Linked DNA regions of Homo sapiens. The main gene of each other region encodes a partner of the protein of the gene in region 3 in a complex. Each region holds a gene or a part of one and is shown on either strand. Other genes may lie near its edges.

Region 1 (6,612 bases), on a different chromosome or scaffold from region 3:
TTCATGTCATTACAAATTAGTTGGCAACTGTGTGTAATGGCAGCATGCCAAAGAAGCTCTTTCTAGCAGTAAGGGATGTCTAGCAATGGAGTAGGCTGCCTGGAGAGGTGGTGAGCTCCCCATCTCTTGAGGTAGGCAAGCAGAGTCTTGAAGGAGCTGAGGAGGGGCCCAGCACCATATGGGAGTGGAGTGGCCTGGCCCTGAGAACCCACGAAATCCATTGTCTGGCTAGGAGGGGCTATTCCACGTGAATCGCCAAACGACCCCAGACTCCAGTGTCCTGAACGTTCGTTGCTCCTGCCTGCGGGCATGCACAGAAATCTCCTCTCACACGCTCATCCTTTGCTCATCCTTTGCATGTTCTGGCCTCCCAGAAAATCACAGAGCGGTTCTTCCGCAACCCAGCGAAGCCCGCGGAGGAGGACGTGGCAGAGCGCGTGTTTCTGGTCGCGGAGGAGCGCATCCAGCTGCGCTACCACTGCCGTGAGGACCACATCACGGCCTCCAAGCGCGAGTTCCTGCGGCGCACCGAGGTGGACAGCAAAGGCAACAAGATCATCATGACGCCCGACATGTGCATCAGCTTCGAGGTGGGCCTGGGGGCCACGGCGGGCAGGGGTCGGCTGCAGGAGGAACCGGGGCTCTCTGTCTTATTCCAGCCACTTGGGAGAACCAGGATGGGCGCTGGTGAATCCCGGCGAGGAAATTCATCTTTGCTCTTTGGGAAAACCAAAAGTTCCCATCTGGGGACCCTTCTCTTTGAGCTCCTCTGAAAATCTTCCTTTTCCACCAAAAAAGCGAACTCAGCAGGCTAAGACGACTCTGCAGTCCTGGTCAGGGCAAACCTCAGATCCTAGGGAGGCTCTGTGGGAGGGGAAGAGTCTCACTACCTCTGAGGGGCTAGCTTTCCTAGTCAAACGCTCACTCTCCCGGCACAGTCCCCAGCTTTTCTGAGTCTTCAGTTCCTCTTTTATTATTATCTGTATTTTTATAAGTGAGAAAATTAAGGCTCAGAGAGGTTTAGCAACTTGCTCGAGGTCACACAGCTGGAAAGTGGCAGGGGTAGATTTGAACCCAGGTGGTCCTATGCCCCGATCATGGCAGCCTCTCTGTGTTACTAAGGTGGTTGTTGTCCCAGGTGGAGCCCATGGAGCACACCAAGAAGCTGCTCTACCAGTACGAGGCCATGATGCACCTGAAGAGGGAGGAGAAGCTGTCCAGACATCAGGTCTGGGAGTCAGAGCTGGAGGTAGGGTCCTGTGGGAGAGTGAGCAGGTGGGCGGTATCTTTGTTTTTGAGATAGGGTCTCGCTCTATAACCCAGGCTGGAATGCAGTGGCGCAATTATGGCTCTACATCCCGGGCTCAGGTGGTCCTCCCACCTCATCCTCCCAGGTAACTGGGACCACTAGCGCACACCACCATGCCTGGCTAATTTCTTGTTTTTGTTTTTGTTTTTTAACAGATGGGGTTTTTCCATTTTGCCCAGGCTGGTCTCAAACTCCTGAATTCATGCAATCTGCCCTCCTTGGCTTCCCAAAGTGCTGGGGTTACAGGAGTGGAGGAGGGGTGTCTCCATCACGCCCTCCAACACTTCTCATTTCAGGTGCTGGAGATTCTGAAGCTTCGAGAGGAAGAGGAGGCGGCGCACACACTGACCATCTCCATCTATGACACCAAGCGGAATGAGAAGAGCAAGGAATATCGGGAGGCCATGGTCAGTCCCAATCCCTTCTCCAGGCCCCAGCTTTTCCTAGACCCCCCTGGTCTCCAGGGTGGTGGGGACCATGAGGGATTCTGCTGAGAAACCCTCTGTGGGGGATACGGTTATTGATACCATGCGGTCATCCTTGCTGCTGAACTGACCATTTCTATGGTTCATCCCAAAGAGTACTTGGGATTTGGGCAAGGTTTCCCCCCATCCCCAGGGGCTGTAGCCAAGCCAAGGCCTGTGGTTGGGAAAAGAATTAAAATTATGTGCCCACCTCTACTCAGGGCTCCCACTGAGGTTGCACCCTGGGCCAGTGGCCCCAGTGAGCTACCTCTGGCTCCAGGCCTGAGCTCTCCTGCTCTCCAGCACAGGGAGGGCATTCAGGTTACACCTTCAGGTTGCAAGGCCCCGCCTGGTTTTCAGGGCCGGCTTCTGAATCCCTTTCACCAACCAAGTTGAGATTTTAGTTTGGGGGTCGTGAGGCAGGATGGGCATCAGATGACTGTTCTCAGATCCCAGGGGAGGGTGTCAGCCCCCACGTCTCCAACTTCACTGCCCCCTGTCTGCAGATGGAGGACACAGGCCCCAGGGTGGAAAAGAAAAGTGAAGGGAGTTACTGGCAGTTTTTAACTAACATCGTTAATAACCACTACCGTTGACTGAATAAGCATCTACTATGGATTGTCAGGCATCAGGCTGCGTGCTTTACAGACATGATCCTGTCAGATCCTCAGATCCTCAGAGAAGGAAACCAAAGCTCAGGTAGTGAGATACAAATTCATGTAAGAAAAAAAGAGTTGGCTGTCACCAGTAAACACAGGTCCAGAGACCAGCATGTGGGCCCTTCTAAGGCCCATCTTGGAGGCGCCATGCACTGGAACCTGGCTGTGAGGTCTGGCTTTGTGCTGGCACACTGCTGATGCAGAGCTGGTGGAGAGGTCTCTGTAGTTCCTGCTGATCCAGCTATCTGCCCCTCACCTTTACAGGAGCGCATGATGCACGAAGAGCACCTGCGGCAGGTGGAGACCCAGCTGGACTACCTGGCCCCATTCCTGGCCCAGCTCCCGCCAGGAGAGAAACTAACATGCTGGCAGGCGGTGCGCCTCAAGGATGAGTGCCTCAGCGACTTCAAGCAGCGGCTCATCAACAAGGCCAACCTCATCCAGGCCCGCTTTGAGAAGGTGCCACCAGGGCCTTTGTTGGGGAGGGGGGGATCTCAGCATCTGCATCCAGGAAATGGGCCCACGGCTGTCCGCCCACTACCTCACAGGCTTGTGAGGGCCTGATGACGGGATGAATATGTCAATGCTTGGGGTTTCCAAATGACTGAGTTGTTCCTCCTCACACTTGTTTATCGGATAGATGAATCGATAGGGGGATGGATGGATGTAGGTATGGATAGGTGGGTGGGTGGGTGGGTGGATGGATGGATGGATAGATGGGTGGATGAATGCATGGGTAGATGGATGAATAGATAGATGGGTGGGTGGATTGATGGGTAGATAGAGGGATGGGTGGGTGCATGAACAGATGGGTGGGTGGATGGGTGGATAAATGGATGGATAGATGGATGGGAGGATGAATGGATGGGTGAGTAGATAGATAGGTGTATGGGTATAGGTATGGATAGGTGGGTGGATGGATGGGTGGGTGGGTGAGTGAGTGAGTGGATGGATGAGTGGGTAGGTGGATGGATGAGTGGGTGGATGGATGAGTGGGTGGGTAGATGGATGAATGGATGGATGGGTGGATGGATGAATGGATGAGTGGGTGGGTAGATGGATGAATGGATGGATGGGTGGATGGATGAATGGATGAGTGGGTGGGTGGGTGGATAGATGAGTGGGTGGGTAGATGGGTGAATGGATGGATGGGTGGATGGATGAATGGATGAGTGAGTGGGTGGATGGATGGATGAGTGGGTGGATGGATGGATGGGTGGATGAGTGAGTGAGTGAGTGGGCAGATGGATGAATGGGTGAGTGGATGGATGAGTGGGCGGGTGGATGGATGAATGGATGGATGGGTGGATAGATGGATGGATGGGTGGGTGGATGAGTGAGTGGGTGGGTGGATGGATGAGTGGGTGGGTGGATGGATGAGTGGGTGGGTGGATGGATGGATGGATGGGTGAGTGAGTGGGTGGGTGGATGGATGAGTGGGTGGGTGGATGGATGAGTGGGTGGGTGGATGGATGGATGGGTGAGTGAGTGGGTGGGTGGATGGATGAGTGGGTGGATGGGGTGGGTGGGTGGATGGATGAATGGATGGGTGGGTGGGTGGATGGATGGATGGATGGATGGATGATGGATGGATGGGTGAGTGGGTGGGTGGATGAGTGAGTGAGCAGGTGGGTGGATGGATGAGTGGGTGGGTGGGTGGATGGGTGGATGGATGGATGAGTGAGTAGGTGGGTGGATGGACGAGTGGGTGGGTGGATGGACGAATGGATGGATGGGTGGATGGATGGATGGATGAATGGATGGGTGGATGAGTGAGTGAGTAGGTGGGTGGATGGATGAGTGGGTGGGTGGATGGGTGGGTGGGTGGATGGATGGATGGATGGGCGAGTGGATAGATGGACGGTTGGATGGGCGAGTGGATAGATGGACAGTTGGATGGATGAGTGGAAGGACGGATGGACGGATGGATGGATGGATGGATGATGGATGGATGGGTGAGTGGGTGGGTGGATGAGTGAGTGAGCGGGTGGGTGGATGGATGAGTGGGTGGGTGGGTGGATGGATGGATGGATGGATGAGTAGGTGGGTGGATGGAAGAGTGGGTGAGTGGATGGATGAATGGATGGATGGGTGGATGGATGGATGGATGAATGGATGGGTGGATGAGTGAGTGAGTAGGTGGGTGGATGGATGAGTGGGTGGGTGGATGGGTGGGTGGGTGGATGGATGGATGGATGGATGGGCGAGTGGATAGATGGACGGTTGGATGGGCGAGTGGATAGATGGACGGTTGGATGGATGAGTGGAAGGACGGATGGACGGATGGATGGGCAGGGATGGGTGGAGGGATGGGCAGAGGAATAGATGGGCAGATGGCTGGGTAGACAGAGAGATGGTACACTGTAACAACTCCTAGTCCTTGACCCATTTTTGTTGGTCAGGCACACACCATGTAGTTCCCGTGCACTACTAAGATTATGTCACTTAATCTTCACAAGGAGCTCTACAAGGGGAGGGGGGAGTACAATGACCCTCCTTTTGTAGACAAGAAATTGCAGGTTCTGAAAATGCCAGTAACTTGTCCAGAGCTACATGGCTCTCTCAGTCTTGCCCCGTTCTGATCTCATGGACATGACATCCCTATAAACATGACCCCACTGGCTCCCACCCAAGATATTTTGTGGCCCCTGCCTCTGTGGCAGGTATGGATAGGTGGCTTGTGTGAGTGGGGACACTGGGGCCAACCGTCATGGTGCTGTCTAGTGACCCATGGGATTGCAGCCTGCAGCCTGGGTGAAGGTCAGCCTTGTCAGTCCTCCTTCTCTGTCTGCCCTATGACCACAGGAGACCCAGGAGCTGCAAAAGAAGCAGCAGTGGTACCAGGAGAACCAGGTGACGCTGACACCCGAGGATGAAGACCTGTACCTGAGTTACTGCTCTCAGGCCATGTTCCGCATCCGCATCCTGGAGCAGCGCCTCAATCGGTGAGCAGGCAGGGCAGGTGGAGAGAACCCACTGGGAGGCTGGACCACCAGCTTTGTAACCCCTCACCCTCTTTCCTTGCCTCTCTGACTTCAGACACAAGGAACTGGCCCCACTGAAGTACCTGGCTCTGGAGGAAAAGCTCTACAAGGACCCACGCCTGGGGGAGCTCCAGAAAATATTCGCTTGATGTCCCTCCTGGGGCCTCAGCCAGAGCTGCCAGAGAAAGGAAACCTCTTCCCGCAGCCTGGCTCCTGTGTTCCCTCTATCCAGCCAATGCCTGTTTACACAGACACCTGGCCTCACTGCCAGCCCACCTCCCCTACAGCCCTGTTTGTTCCTGCTTCTCATGATTTTCCTGTAAATAAACACACTCTTAATTTGCCATTTGTGCCTTGCGCTTCACAAGCTCCAGCAGCAGCCTTTCTCTTCTTCTGTTATCTATAGCCTGGGACCACCCCCTTCCTCCCCTTGGCCTGTCGTTTGCTTCCTGTCCTTCTCTCCGTTGGAATGTCAGGTCTTCACAGCACCTCTGCAGATGGTCCCACAGCCATCTGCAAACAACTGGTTATATCTCAATGTGACTAGGGTGGCCCACCTCACCAAGTGGGATGGGGAAGGCTAAGATGCATGCCCCAGAATTTGAGGACTGAATCCCAGCTCCTCCTCTTACCAGATACCACTTACCCATCTGTGGAATGGGGTAGCATTGTTGCATTAAATAAGACTTATGGCCAGGTGTGGTGGCTCACACCTGTAATCCCAACATTTAGGGAGGCTGAGGCAGGAGGATCACTTGATCCCAGGAGTTTGAGACCAGCCTGGGCAACATAATAAGACCCCATCTCTAAAAAAAAAAAAAAACAAAGAGCCAGGCATGGTGGCATGAGCCTGTAGTCCCAGCTACTCAGGAGGCTGAGGTAGGAGGATCACTTTCACCTAGGAAGTCAAGGCTGCAGTGAGCCATGATTGCACCACTGCACTTCAGCCTAAGCAACAGAGCAAAACCCTGTCTCAAAAAAAAGAAAAAAAAGACATAAATTATAAAGCAGGGAGGCTGGGAATGGCACATAGAAAGCAGTCATTAAATGTTAGCTTACAAAATAGCCAAAAAACACATGAAATGGTTGTCAAATTCATGAGTCATCTGGCAAATGAAATGTCACAACACCCTCCGGTATGAAAAAAATAAAAAGTACTGGTGACGATGAGAAACAACTGGAACTCCCAAATAGCC
Region 2 (7,112 bases), on a different chromosome or scaffold from region 3:
AGTGATGCAGTGGAGGCAGGCTCCCATCTGAGTCTGTGGGAAGGAGCCCCACCTTGTAGGGGTGCTGGCAGGAGCCCATCCAGAGGAGTATGGGATGTGGACACTAGATGGAGCCATGATCATTAGGCCCAGTGTCAGAGTGTCAGGCCCTTCTAGCCAGTCGCTTTTTTTTTTTTTTTTTTTTTAAATTAATAGAGATGGAGTCTTGCTCTGTTGCCCAGGCCGGTCTTGAATTACTGAGCTCAAGCGATCCTCCCACCTCAGCCTCCCAACGTGCTGGGATTACAGGCATGAGCCACAGCACCTGGCCTTGCAGCTTCTGGCTCTTTTCTTTCCCACCTCTCACTCTGCCCCAGGCTGGACAAACCCTTTAAACAAAGGGAAGTGCTCCCTGCAGAGAGGCTCAGAAGTTTGCCCACTCCATGGACCATCCCAAGGCTACTTTTCCCATTCATCCCATTCCTAGAAGGTCTTGGGAAAAGCATGCGAGAGAGACTTATTCAGCGACAAATACCTGCTTCTCACCCATCTCTGTATCATATTTCTGGATCCAGTTCTCGATTTCCGTTTCCACTTTATATTTCTTCTAGAAAAGATCCAATTTGTCATTGTTTGATGGAATATATTAACAATCAACAGCACTGAGCACTCTCTGCATCACTAGGCTCTGGCAGGTGCTTGACATGCCTCGCCTATTGAACAAGGAGGTTCCCTTTTCTCCATTTCACAGGGGAGAGAACTGAGGCTCAGACATGCTATCTTACTTGCCCAAGGTGACAGAGCTAATGGGTGGCAGAGCCTGAATTTGATGCCAGCAGCCTGGTTCCAGGACATCCTAGGCAGAGAAAGCAGCAGGTGCAAAGGCCCTGAGGTAGGAACAAGCTTGTGCTGTTTAAAGGACAGAAATCAGCCTGGCGTGGTGGCTTACGCCTGTAATCCCAGCGCTTTGGGAGGCTGAGGCAGGCGGGTCACTTGAGGCCAGGAGTTTGAGACCAGCCTGGCCAACATGCCAAAACCCCATCTCTACTAAAGATACAAAAATTAGCCAGGCATGGTGATGCACACCTGTAATCTCAGCTACTCAGGAGGCTGAGGCAGGAGAATCACTTGAACCCAGGAGGCAGAGTTTGCAGTGAGCTGAGATCATGCCACCACACTCCAGCCTGGGTGACAGAGCAAGACTGTCTCAAAAAATAAAAATTAAAAAAAAAATTAAAGGACAGAAATCAAGCCAGTGTGACTGGAAGGGAGTGGCGAGGAGGAAAGTGGTCCCCAACAAGGTCCAAGGAAAAGGCTGTGTCACAGAGGGAGTGTCAGCAAGAGGAGGCTGTATTCTCAGGAAAGGGTGAGGTGAAGCCACTGGGTGATTTAGATGCAGTGGAGGGACATGATCTAATCTTGTTTTTAAAAGATTATTTCCACCATAAAAAGCAGTGAAGCACTGATCCATGCTACAACATGGGTGAACCTTGAAAACACAGTGCTAAGTAAAACATGCCAGACACAACGGCCACAGAAGATTCCATTCATATGAAGTGTCTAGAATAGGTGAATCCACAGAGACAGAAAGCACATTAGTGATTGCCAGGGACAGGGGGAATAAGGGAATGGGGAGTAACTTCTTAATGGATATGGAGTTTTATTTTGAGGTGATAATGTTTTGGAACTAGATAGAAGTGGTGGAAGTGGGGGTGGCACAACATCGTGAATATACTAAATGCCACTGAATTGCTCATTTTAAAATGGTTTTATGTTATGTAAGTTTCACCTAAATTAAAAATAAGCAGGCTGGGCCAGTGGCTCATCCCAACCATTTGGGAGGCCACGGTGGGAATGGGAGAATTGCTTGAGGCCACAAGTTCTAGATCAGCCTGGGCAACAGAGCAAAACCCTGTCTCCACAAAAAATGATACTTTTTTTTTTTCTTTTGAGATGGAGTTTCGCTCTGTCACCCAGGCTGGAGTGCAGTGGTGTGATCTCGGTTCACCGCAACCCCCGCCTCCTGAGTTCAAGCAATTCTCATGCCTCAGCCTCCCAAGTAGCTGGGATTACAGGTGCATGCCACCACGCCCGGCTAATTTTGTATTTTTAGTAGAGACAGGGTTTCACCACATTGGCCAGGCTGGTCTCGAACTCCTGACCTCAGGAGATCCGTCTGCCTCAGCCTCCCAAAGTGCTGGGATTACAGGCGTGAGCCACTGCTCCCAGCCAATAATAATAATTTGTAATTAGCCAGACGTGGTGACATGCCCCAGCGACCCATGAGGGCTGAGATGGGAGGATCACTTGAGCCCAGGAGTTGGAGGCTGAAGTGAGCTATGATCACGCCACTGCACTCTGGCATGGGTGACAGAGTGAGACCCTGTCTCAAACATAAATAAATAAATAAATAAATAAATAAACCCCCTAATCCTACAGAGCAAGAGCCCTTAGCTTGGGCACCATGGGTAGGCCGGCTTCAGGGGGACTGGGCTCCCCAGGGAACTGTCCACTAGGATGTGTAAGTGCATCTGTGCCTTCTTTCTGGGGGAGAGGCCCGTGGCTTCCATCAGATGCTCAAGAGTGTGACACTAAGAGACTGGAGACAAGTATTAAAAAGGGTGCCTTTTACAAGGAAAGAGATTTGGAAGTTGGGTGTGTGCTAGGCCTGGGTCTTGGCTGAGATGATGAAGGAGAAGGCAAATGAAGGTTTTGGGTTTTTTTTTTTAAGAGGCAAGGTTTCACTCTGTTGACCTGGCTGGAATGCAGTGGCACAGTTATAGTTCACTGCAGCCTCCAAACTCCTGGGCTAAAGTGATCCTCCTGCCTCAGCCTCCCAAGTAGCTGGGACTATAGGCACACATCACAGCGCCTGACTAATTTATCTTTTATTCTTTGTACAGACAGGGTCTTGCTGTTGCCCAGGCTGGAGTGCAGTGGTGCAATCACAGCTCACTGCAGCCTCCGCCTCCTGGGTTCAAGCGATCCTCCCACCTCAGCCTCCCAAAGTGTTGGGATTACAGGCATGAGCCACCTTACCCGGTCAGAAATGATATTTATTGAACACTTACTATGCACCAGCTCTCTCACTACCATCTCATGTAATTCTCATGTAACAACCATTAAGACCAATGTTAGCATTTTCATTTCTGAGGTGTGAAATCGGCAGCTGGGCAGGAGTTGAGTAATTAGCCTGAGCTTTACATGCTACTTCTTCATTCCTTTGCAGGGCACCCAGCCTCTGACGATGTGGGTATTATCCCTGTGGGGTCTCAGGAGTTGAGGAACTTGCCCAAGGTCACAAAGCTGGCATGCAGCAATGCTGGGACAGGATCCCAGTTTGTCCCCTGTCCCCAGGCCTGTGTGCTGCCCCTTCCTGCCTCCCAGGAGACACTGGCTTGGATTTGGGCCTTCCCTGCTCCTGTGCCCTTCCCCTCCACCAAGCCACTTCCTGAGTAGCTGGTGCAGTCCTGCCCTGCCCAACACTGCTGGACCTCCAGGAGTGATGGAACAGTCCCACCCATCCCCCCCACCAGGGGCCCCCTCGGCCCATCCTCGCTGCTTCCCGGGGCACCTTCCTCAGCGCCTGCTCTGCCTCCCGGTTCTCCATGACCAGGTTGTAAAACTGTGACTGCAGCTGCAGGATCTCCTGCTGGATCTTGGCCACCCTGGCCTGTGATGCCCGGAAATCGGCCTTCTGCTGCTTCTCAGCCTCCTGCTTAGTGCGAACGAGGCTGTTCTCTGAGAACTTGAGCACCTGGTGCAGGTGGTTTTTCAGTTCTTGGATCACAAAGTTCTCCTTTTCCACCTAAGCCAGGAAGAGAAAGGGCTCCGTTAATACCTCCATGCCCAGCCGGGCACAGTGGCTCACGCCTGTAATCCCAACACTTAGGGAGGCTGAGGTGGGTGGGTCACCTGAGGTCAGGAGTTTGAGACCAGCCTGGCTAACATGATGAAATCCCGTCTCTTCTAAAAATACAAAAATTAGCTGGGTGTGGTGGTGCATGCCTGTAATCCCAGCTACTCGGGAGGCTGAGGCAGGAGAATCACTTGAATACAGGAAGTAGAGATTGCAGTGAGCGGAGATATCATACCACTGCACTTTTACTTGGGTGACAGAGTGAGATTCCATCTCAAAAAAAAAAGCAACTCTCCATATCCACTGACAGTCACCAGAGGCTGGCACCACTGCATCCTCCCTCAGGGCCAGGCATGCCACCTGGGTTATATCTCTCTAATCACACCCCCAACCCCACAATGGAGGTCAGGGACAGCCTGATTACAGACAAGACAACTGAGGCTCAAGGAGGTGGCTTCATCTGTCTGGGGTTGCCCAGCTGAACTGGGGCCTGAAGCCAGGTTTGTCTGACCTTGAGCCCACGTTCTTGGCCACCACTTTCTATTTCCTTGCACGAGTGAAGGGTACAAGCTTGTTGGATTGAGGCCACAGGGGAGGACTGGGACAGCGGCGATGCTCCTCCTGGGGACACAGCAGGGGAGGCCCAGCTGGCAGAGACACTTAGTGGGGTGCATGAAGGTGTGCGATGAACACAGGCTGCAGGGATTGCCACCGGGCTCTTTCTTGAGGGCCCATGTCTGGCTTGTCCCCTGCCTTGGGTGGATTCTAGAACAGGAATGGGGGTGGAGGATGAGACAGTTTTGTAAAGAAGCTCTCAAGGCTTCTCACTACACTAGAGTCTCCCTCTGAGCACAGCGGTGCTATGGCTGCTCACGCCACCATCTTGGGCTTGGGTCAGCTGGCAGCAGGCCCGCCGGGCATCTGCTCACTTCCTGCACACTGGGGGCAGGGAGGCAGTGCCTTTGGGGCAAGCCCATCCTGCAGGCAAGGCTTTAGGCACCAGGCGCTGGGAATATGATCGGCAGTCAGAGCTCTCCCTGTAGACTCCCCACACGTGCCTGATTGGTGTCTCCCCTCACTGTACACTGAGGTTCAATGACATGAAATTTGCCCACCTGGCAAAAATGGCATTTGAGCCCAGGTCAGTCCAAGGTGAAGCCCCAAGCTGGTTCTAGCACCTGAATGAGACCAGCAGGGCCACCTGTGTCCCTCTGCCTATTCCTAGATGATGCCCCTCCCACCTTACTAGTAACCTCCCTGCCCGAGGGCTCAGCAGCTGGTCCTCTGTCCACTCAACAAGTATACATCATGCCCCTCTTTTGGACAGGCTCACTGGGGACACAGTGGCAGGCTGAAAGAGACAAGGTCCCCCTTTTCTTGTGGAGGAGCCAGACCCCTCAAGACCACACAAATCACACACACATATGTTATCCACAAAGTCAGGTGAATGTTATCCACAAAGTCAGGTGAATGCTTTAAAGGACAAATTCAGTGAGAAGTGCCCAACCCAGCACCAGGGAGGGGGCTGTGAATAGTTTCCCAGGGCCTTGAACCTTTCATCAGTGGTGGGGGATAGAAACAGAAGGGCCTGTGGCAGTGCAGCCTGGCTACCCCCATGTCTGCTCTCCCCAGAGAGGCTGTGGGGTAGAATGTGGAGCATAACACAGCCCCAGTGACGGGTGGTCGGTCCTTCCTAGCACTTCTCTCTGCTGGGTGTGGCTACAAGATATGCATGGAAGTTCTGTGTGCCACCTCCACACGTGTCCTTAAGGGGCAGAACCAAGCCCTCTCCTCCCCTTTCCTCCTTCCTGCTGGCTAGACTGGGGGCCACATGATGGGGAAAGCTGGAGCAGCCATCTTGGCCCACAAGCAGAAGTCCCATGTTGGGGACAGCAGGGAAGTCACATAGAAGAAACCAGACCTCTGACAAGTTGGGGAGCAGAGATGCCACACCAGCTCCGGTGTTTCCACTACAGAGAAATACACTGCCATCTTGACTAAGCCACAGCTATTTTGGGTGTCTCTGTTATAGCAGCCAAATCTGTACTCATACACCATCTCACAGGGTTTTTGTAAAGATTTAGAGAGAAAATGTATGTTAAACTAAATACACTGTATGTGTGCAATATGACAATTATTATTAGGGTTTGGGATCATGCTACTGTTTCCCTTTTTTTTTTGAGACAGGGTCTTGCTCTGCAGCCAGGCTGGAGTACAGTGGTGCGATCTCAGCTCCCTGCAACCTCTGCCTTCTGGGCGCAAGTGATCCTCCCACCTCAGCTTCCTGAGTAGCTGGGACTACAGGTGCATACCACCACGCCCAGCTAATTTTGTCTTTTACGTAGAGACAGGGTTTTGCCGTGTTGCCCAGGCTGGTCTCAAACTCCTGAGCTCAAGTGATCCACCTGCCTTGGCCTCCCAAAGTGTTGGGATTACAGGCGTGAGCCACCACACCGCCATTTCCCTTCTTAACAATTCTTCTAACTGGTGTGGTATGCCTATAATCCTAGCTACTCAGGAGGCTGAGGCTGGAGGATCCCTTGAAGCTAGGAGTTTAAGACCAGCCTGGGTAACAGAGTAAGACCCCTCCCCTCCCCTCCCCACCCCTTCCCTTCCCTTCCCTTTCATTGAGACAGAGTCTCACTCTGTCGCACAGGCTGGAGTATGATGGTGCAATCTAGGCTCACTGCAATCTCCACTTCCTGGGTTCAAGCAATTCTTGTGCCTCAGCCTCCCGAGTAGCTGAGATTATAGGTGCACGCCACCACACCCAGCTAATTTTTATATTATGAGTAGAGATGGGGTTTCACCATGTTGGTCAGGCTGGTCTCGAACTCCTGACCTTAGGTGATCTGCCTGCCTCAGCCTCCCAAAGTGCTGGGATTACAGGCATGAGCCACTGTGCCCAGCTAATTTTTTTTTTTTTTTTTTTTTTTTTGTAGAGATGGGGTTTCACCCTGTTGCCCAGGCTGGTCTTGAACTCTTGACCTCAAGTGATCCATCTGCCTTGGCTTCCCAAAGTGCTGGGATTATAGGTGTGAGCCACTACTTCCAGCCAGACACCCCATCTCTAAAAAAAGAAAAAAAATTAATTAGGCAGGCATGGTGGCATGTGCCTGTAGTCACAGCTACTTGGGAGGCTGAGGCAGGGAGATTGCTTGAGCCCAGGAGTTCGAAACCAGCCTGGGCAACATAGCGAGACCCTGTCTCTACAAAAATGTAAAAAATTAGCCAAGAGTGGTGGCGCATGCCTGTAGTTTCAGCTACTCAAAAG
Region 3 (6,640 bases):
AGATCAAGTCCCTGGAAGAGATCTATCTCTTCTCCCCGCCCATCAAGTAGTCTGAGATCATTGACTTTTTCCTGGGGGCCTCTCTCAAGGATGAGGTTTTTTTTTTGTTTGTTTGTTTGTTTGTTTGTTTTTGAGACGGAATTTTGCTTTTTTGCCCAGGCTGGAGTGCAATGGCATGATCTTGGCTCACGACAATCTCCACCTCCCAGGTTCAAGTGATTCTCCTGCCTCAGCCTCCCGAGTAGCTGGGATTACAGGCATGCGCCACCATGCCCAGCTAATTTTGTATTTTTAGTAGAGATGGGGTTTCTCCATGTTGGTCAGGCTGGTCTCAAACTCCTGACCTCAGGTAATCTGCCCGCCTCAGCCTCCCAAAGTGCTGGGATTACAGGCGTGAGCCGCCACGCCAGGCCTAGGATGAGGTTTTAAAGATTATGCCAGTGCAGAAGCAGACCTGCCCCAGCCAGCGCAGCAGGTTCAAGGCGTTTGTTGCCATCAGGGATTACAATGGCCGTGTCACTCTGGGTGTTAAGTGCTCCAAGGAAGCAGCCACTGCTGTCAGAGGGATCACTGTCCTGACCAAGCTCTCTACTGTCCCCGTGCAGAGGCCACTGGGGGACCAAGATTGCAAGCCCCACACTGTCCCTTGCAAGATGACAGGCTGCTGCGGCTCTGTGCTGCTGCACCTTATTCCTGCACCCAGGGGCACTGGCATCCTCTTGGCCTCTGTGCCCAAGAAGATGCTGCTGATGTCCAGTATTGACAACTGCTACACCTCAGCCAGGAGCTGCAGTGCCACCCTGGGCAACTTTGCCAAGGCCACCTTTGATGCCATCTCCAAGACCTATAGCTACCTGCCCCCTGACCTCTGGGAGGAGACTGTGTTCACCAAGTCTTCCTCTCAGTAATTCACTGACCATCTTGTCAAGACCCACACCAGAGTCTCTGTGTGGAGGACTCAGGCTTCAGCTGTGGCTACAACACAGGGTTTTGTTTTGAGATGGAGCCTTGCTCTATCGCCCAGGCTGGAGTGCAGTGGTGCAGTCCTGGCTCACTGCAACCTCCACCACCTGGGTTCACATGATCCTCCTACCTCAGCCTCCCGAGTACCTGGGACTACAAGCGCACACCACCATGCCTGGTTAATTTTTTGTATTTTTAGTAGAGATGGGGTTTTACCAATGTTGGCCGGCCAGGCTGGTCTCAAACTCCTGACCTCAAGTGATCCGCCCACCTTGGCTTCCCAAAGTAACACAGGGTTTTTATATAAGAAAAATAAAGTGAATTAAGCCTGTTTAAAACAAACAAAAACACAGATACATAAACCAATGAAACAGAATAGAGAACTCAGAAATTAATCTATATATTTACAGCCAACTGATTTTTGACAAAAGCGCCAAGAACACTCACTGGGGAAAAGACAGTCTCTTCAATAGATTTTGCTGGGAAAACTGGATATCCATATGCAGAAGAATGAAACTAGATTCCCATCTCTCACTCTATACAAAAATCAACTAAAAATGGATCTAAGACCTACATGTAAGACCTGAAACTGGCAGGGCGCAGTGGCTCATGCCTGTAATCCCAGCACTTTGGGAGCCTGAGACAGACAGGTCGCTGGAGCTCATGAGTTGGAGACCAGCCTGGGCAACATGGCAAAGACCCACCTCTCTATAAAAAATACAAAAATTAGCTGGGCATGGTGGTACCTGCCTATAGTCCCAGCTACTCAGGATGCTGAGGTGGGAGGATGGCTTGAGCCCAGGAGGTGGAGGTTGTAGTGAGCTGAAATTGCACCACTGCACTCCAGCCTGAGCAATAGAGCCAGACTTTGTCTCAGAAGAAAAAAAAAAAGACCTGAAACTATAAAATGACCAGAAGAAAACAAGAGAAATGCTTTAGGACATTGGCCTGGGAAAAAATTTTATGAATAAGACCTCAAAAGCACAGACAACAAAAGCAAAAATAAATGGAATATATCAAACTATAAATCTTCTGCACAGCAAATGAAACAACAGAGTGAAAAGACACCCTACACAATGTGACAAAATATTTGCAAACTACTTATCTGACAGGGTATTAATATCCAGAATATACAATGAACTCTAACATCTCAATAGCAAAAAAACAAACAATTCAATTAAAAACATCTGAACAGATGTTTCTCAAAAGAAGACATACAAATGGCCAACAAATACATTAAAAACTTTTCAGCATCACTAGTTATCAGGGAAATGCAAATAAGAACCAGAATGAGGCATCATCTCACCCCACTTAGGATGATAATTATCAAAAAGACAAAAAATAACAAATGCTGGTGAGGATGCAAAGAAAAAGGAACTCATATACTGTAAGTAAGAATGTAAACTAGGACAGCCACTAGGAAGAACATTGTGGAGGGCCCTCAAAAACTACAAACAGAACTATCATATGATCCAGCAATCTCACTACTGAGCATTTGTCTAAAGGAAAGGAAATCACTATATTGAAAACATATCTGCACCCATGTTTACTGCAGCACTGTTCGCAATAACAAGATACAGAATCAACCTAGGTGTCCAACAACAGATGACTGGATAAAGAAAATGTGGTACCTATACACAATGGAATACTATTCAGCCATAAAAAAAGAATGAAATCCATGGCAACATGGATGGAACTGGAGGACATTATGTTAAGTGAAATAAGCCAGGAACAGAAAGTTAAACACCTCATGTTCTCACTCATATGCCGAAGCTAAAAAAGTTGATCTCATAGAAGTAAAAACAAGAACAGAGGCTTCTAGAGACTGGGAAGGGTAGAGAGATGGAGGAATAGGGAGAGATTTGTTAAAGGATATACCAAATTACAGCTAGATAGGGGGAATAAGTTCTAGTGTTCTATACCACTATGGGATGACTATAGTTGACAATAATATAGTTTCAAATAGCTAAAAGGAGGATATTGAATGTTCTCAACACAAAGAAATGATAAATGTTTGAGACGGATATGCTAATACCCTGATCTGATCACTATACATGATAGGTGTTGAAACATCACTATGTACCCCATCAATATGTACAGTTATTTGTCAATTTTTTTAATGCCAATTTTTTTTTTTTTTTTTGAGGTGGAGTTTCACTGTTGTTGCCCAGGCTGTAGTGCAGTGGTGCAATCTTGGCTCACTGCAACCTCGGCCTCCCAGGTTCAAGCTATCCTCCTGCCTTAGCCTTCCAAGTAGATGGGATTACAGGCACCCGCCACCATGCCCAGCTAATTTTTGTATTTTTATTCACCATATTGGCCAGGCTGGTCTTGAACTCCTGACTGAGGTGATCCACCCACCTTCCCGCCTTGGCCTCCCAAAGTGCTGAGATTACAGGCATGTGACACCGTGCCCGGCCAGTGCCAACGTGTTTAAACAAAGAAGTTGCTTTGAAAGAAATGTGTCTTTACAGCCACAAGGACCACAGAGCAGGGCAACAGCTCAAAAAAGACTCAGGAATACCTGTTTGCACAGCCCCTGCCTCCACCCTAGTGCTTTCAACCTGCAGAAACTGGAGAGGGATCTGGAATATTCTACCCATAAAAACTATTCTAAGAGGGAAAATTGAAGTAGCCACCACTCTAGGCCACCCAAAGTCCAGAAACAACTTGTAACTCACATTTCAAAACAATTCCCTTAAACCCAGTTTCCTTTTGTTTTCATTTTACAAATGTCACACAGTTTTTCATAACCAATTCTAATCATGTATGTTTCTAAGCAGATTTCAGTTTCTGTTGCTTCTCACAGCTTTTGAAGCTGTTTTCTACATATTCAAACTCTGAGGGGTATGATTTCTCTGCCTGGCTTAGAGCTCCACTATGACCCACCTTTTAGAATGAAGGATGAGAACCTTTTCGTGATGGGTTGACACTGTGGTTGTAGTTATCTCTAAAATAACCAGGACACCCACTCCTAAGCACACTGCCAAGGCTCACCGAAAACAGGCTTTACACACCTTTGAACCATTCCCAGAGCCTGGCCTGGGACCTTGTACACACATGGAAAGAACTTAATAATTTCTTGACATTTCTCCCTTGTGACTGTGCTAATTGGTCCCCCAGACACCCCATTCCACATATCAGCTAACCTGGCTTTTCCCACATGAGATTATGTGGAAAATCAGCATCCCACAAGACATTAACAGGCATTACTCTGAAGTCTGTAGCCAAAAAAGTTGGAAAACCAAGAGAGACAAAGCTTAAAGGGTTTATTTTCCACAGGACTTTGTAGAGCCTTCAGAATACTTTGTGCCCAGCAAATCTTTAGGAGGGGCCTAGGATGTGCTGGCTTTCCCAAATGTATTTGACCAAAGAATACTTTTTTTGGCAGAAATATTAACATCTTAAGATTGCACAGAACGTTTTAGAGACCATTAAGTTAACTGCCACTACAGGAAAGAACAAAAAATGCACACTCCACTTGCAAATCCTCCCTGCAATACAGAGCATTCAGGTGCTCTGCCTTACCAAGCGCCTCTGCTTCAAGGTGGAAGCAACTGCTTACTGAGTGCTTCAGTGGCCTTGCCCTGCTCTGGGAAATGACTCCATTTCAACCATCCCAGGCAACAATAGCCACAGTGTCAACACCTAGAACCAGTGAGGCCTATTAGAAGGTGGTTGTTTCTAACAACTTTTTACAAGACAGCAAAGTCAGGAACAAGAGAAGGCAGAAGGATACTCCAAATGGAATCCAAAGTTTGGTTTTGTTGACATGAGTGGCAGTGGAGAGACAACTGTGGGGTGAACACCCATGAGTTTGTAGGGCCTGCTGTCTTCAGAGCAGCCTCGAGACCCTCAGCCAGCCTCATGCTTCCACCCAGCAGGCAGAGGTTTTGGGCAAGTTAGACTTGAGAGTAATTGAGAGAGAAGCATTGTGAGAACAGATGTCCTGGGTGAGGTGCCCCCTGGGCAGCCATCTGCCTTCACCCTGGAGGAAACATGCTTCCAGCGGGGACTGCAAAGTAACACCCTGGTTGGCCCTTTCCCCACAACACCTGCCCTGTGCAGTTGGGGAAGCGGCTGTCACAGATGAATTCACAGATGAATCGGCAGAGTGCGCTGATACAAAGGTGGGCTCTGCTCTGAGTGTGGCCTGCACAGCCAGGGGACTTCCAAATGCTCCTTCTCTGTTCAGCTCCCTTTGTGTTCACGGTATAATGACACACACTTTCTCATTGGATTCTTTTCACTCACCAGCTTTTTGTCGATAAAGATACGATTGTTAATGCTGTCGGGGCATCGCACGACATCCACCTCCTGAAGATTGACAATCGAGAAGATGAGCTGGTGACCAGAATCAACTCTTGGTGTACACGTTTAATAGACAGGGTGAGTCAATCCCAAGCCATCCTAGCAGGCTGGATGAACTTTTCTAGCTGACATGGAAATCCTCCCTAGGTAGTGGATAGAATTTTCATTAAGGAATGAAATGAAGGAAGAAATAAAATTAAGGATTATAGAATTCCACACTGAAGACAACATTGCCCAGAGACTTTAAAACCCATGGGCTTCATCATTTTCCTAATTCCTACCTCAAATATACAGAGATCAGCAGAACCTGGGGAGGCGCTGAAGCAAATGAGGTTTGCAGATCTAAAGGAACTATTTTCCCCTTCCCTCAAACTGGATTCAGTGAAAGATATTAACCAATGATCTGATGTAAGGAATCGGGCTTTGGTTTCACTCCTCAGATTCACAAGGATGAGATCATGAGGAACCGCAAGCGCGTGAAGGAGATCAATCAGTACATCGACCACATGCAGAGCGAACTGGACAACCTGGAATGTGGCGACATCCTAGACTAGATGAATGTCAGCCACAGGAGCTTCTTCAAAACATAGCACCAGCCCCAGCCAGGAGAAGGAAGTGCACACGCCTCACCCGCACCTCTAGAGAGTTGCTGGGCATCTCTCAACCGCGATCCCCAACACCATTCTTCCCCCACCCCTGGAAAAACTTCCAAAAGTAGAGAAAATAAAGGACTCATTTCACATTTCCCCTACTCATAAAAAAAAAAAAAAAATCAGCTGGGTGCGGTGGTTCACGTCTGTAATCCCAGCACTTTGGGAGGCCGAGGCATGCAGATCACGAGGTCAGGAGTTCGAGACCAGCCTGACCAACATGGTGAAACCTTGTCTCTACTAAAAATACAAAAATTAGCCAGATGTGGTAGCGTGCACCTGTAATCCCAGCTACTCAGGAGGCTGAGGCAGGAGAATCACTTGAACCTGGGAGGCGGAGGTTGCAGTGAGCCAAGATCGCACCACTGCACTCCAGCCTGGGCGACAGAGCGAGACTTCGTCTCAAAAAAAAAAAAAAAAAAAAAAAAAAAAAAAAAAAAATGTTCATGTAGGAACAAGAGAAAGAGTTTGAGATGAACAGCCGGTCCCAGGCCAGCTGACAGAGCAACTCCCAAGGGCACTGCCATCAGCTAGATTCTTGGCTGTGGCATAAAGTCAGACACGTGCCCCTGCCGTTTCCCCTGCCATGCCTAGGCAGGCTGCCAGCCACAGGCAAAAGGAGGCCGGTGTGGGCTAAGACCTTCTCTGCTCTGGGTGCTGAGGGGCAGGGAAGCAGGAGGAGAGGCTGCAGCTCCCACCACAGTGCTGGGGCCTGG

Evidence for each region.
Region 1: DRC3 (region 3) and DRC7 share a complex: the UniProt entries of both Homo sapiens proteins name them as parts of the nexin-dynein regulatory complex.
Region 2: DRC3 (region 3) and DRC10 share a complex: the UniProt entries of both Homo sapiens proteins name them as parts of the nexin-dynein regulatory complex.

Annotation. Positions count from the first base shown.
Region 1 is NC_000016.10:57,725,694-57,732,305, forward strand, and holds the end of DRC7 (dynein regulatory complex subunit 7), read left to right. Parts: intron 1-374; coding exon 375-590; intron 591-1,138; coding exon 1,139-1,249; intron 1,250-1,605; coding exon 1,606-1,716; intron 1,717-2,696; coding exon 2,697-2,891; intron 2,892-5,237; coding exon 5,238-5,377; intron 5,378-5,471; coding exon 5,472-5,565; 3' UTR 5,566-6,112; downstream 6,113-6,612. UniProt on the Homo sapiens protein: Component of the nexin-dynein regulatory complex (N-DRC) a key regulator of ciliary/flagellar motility which maintains the alignment and integrity of the distal axoneme and regulates microtubule sliding in motile axonemes.
Region 2 is NC_000012.12:113,197,027-113,204,138, forward strand, and holds part of DRC10 (dynein regulatory complex protein 10), read right to left. Parts: intron 3,788-7,112; coding exon 3,554-3,787; intron 587-3,553; coding exon 515-586; intron 1-514. UniProt on the Homo sapiens protein: Component of the nexin-dynein regulatory complex (N-DRC), a key regulator of ciliary/flagellar motility which maintains the alignment and integrity of the distal axoneme and regulates microtubule sliding in motile axonemes.
Region 3 is NC_000017.11:18,010,844-18,017,483, forward strand, and holds the end of DRC3 (dynein regulatory complex subunit 3), read left to right. Parts: intron 1-4,215; exon of another isoform or gene 4,216-5,220; coding exon 5,221-5,352; exon of another isoform or gene 5,353-5,357; coding exon of another isoform or gene 5,358-5,417; intron 5,418-5,714; coding exon 5,715-5,828; 3' UTR 5,829-6,046; downstream 6,047-6,640. UniProt on the Homo sapiens protein: Component of the nexin-dynein regulatory complex (N-DRC) a key regulator of ciliary/flagellar motility which maintains the alignment and integrity of the distal axoneme and regulates microtubule sliding in motile axonemes.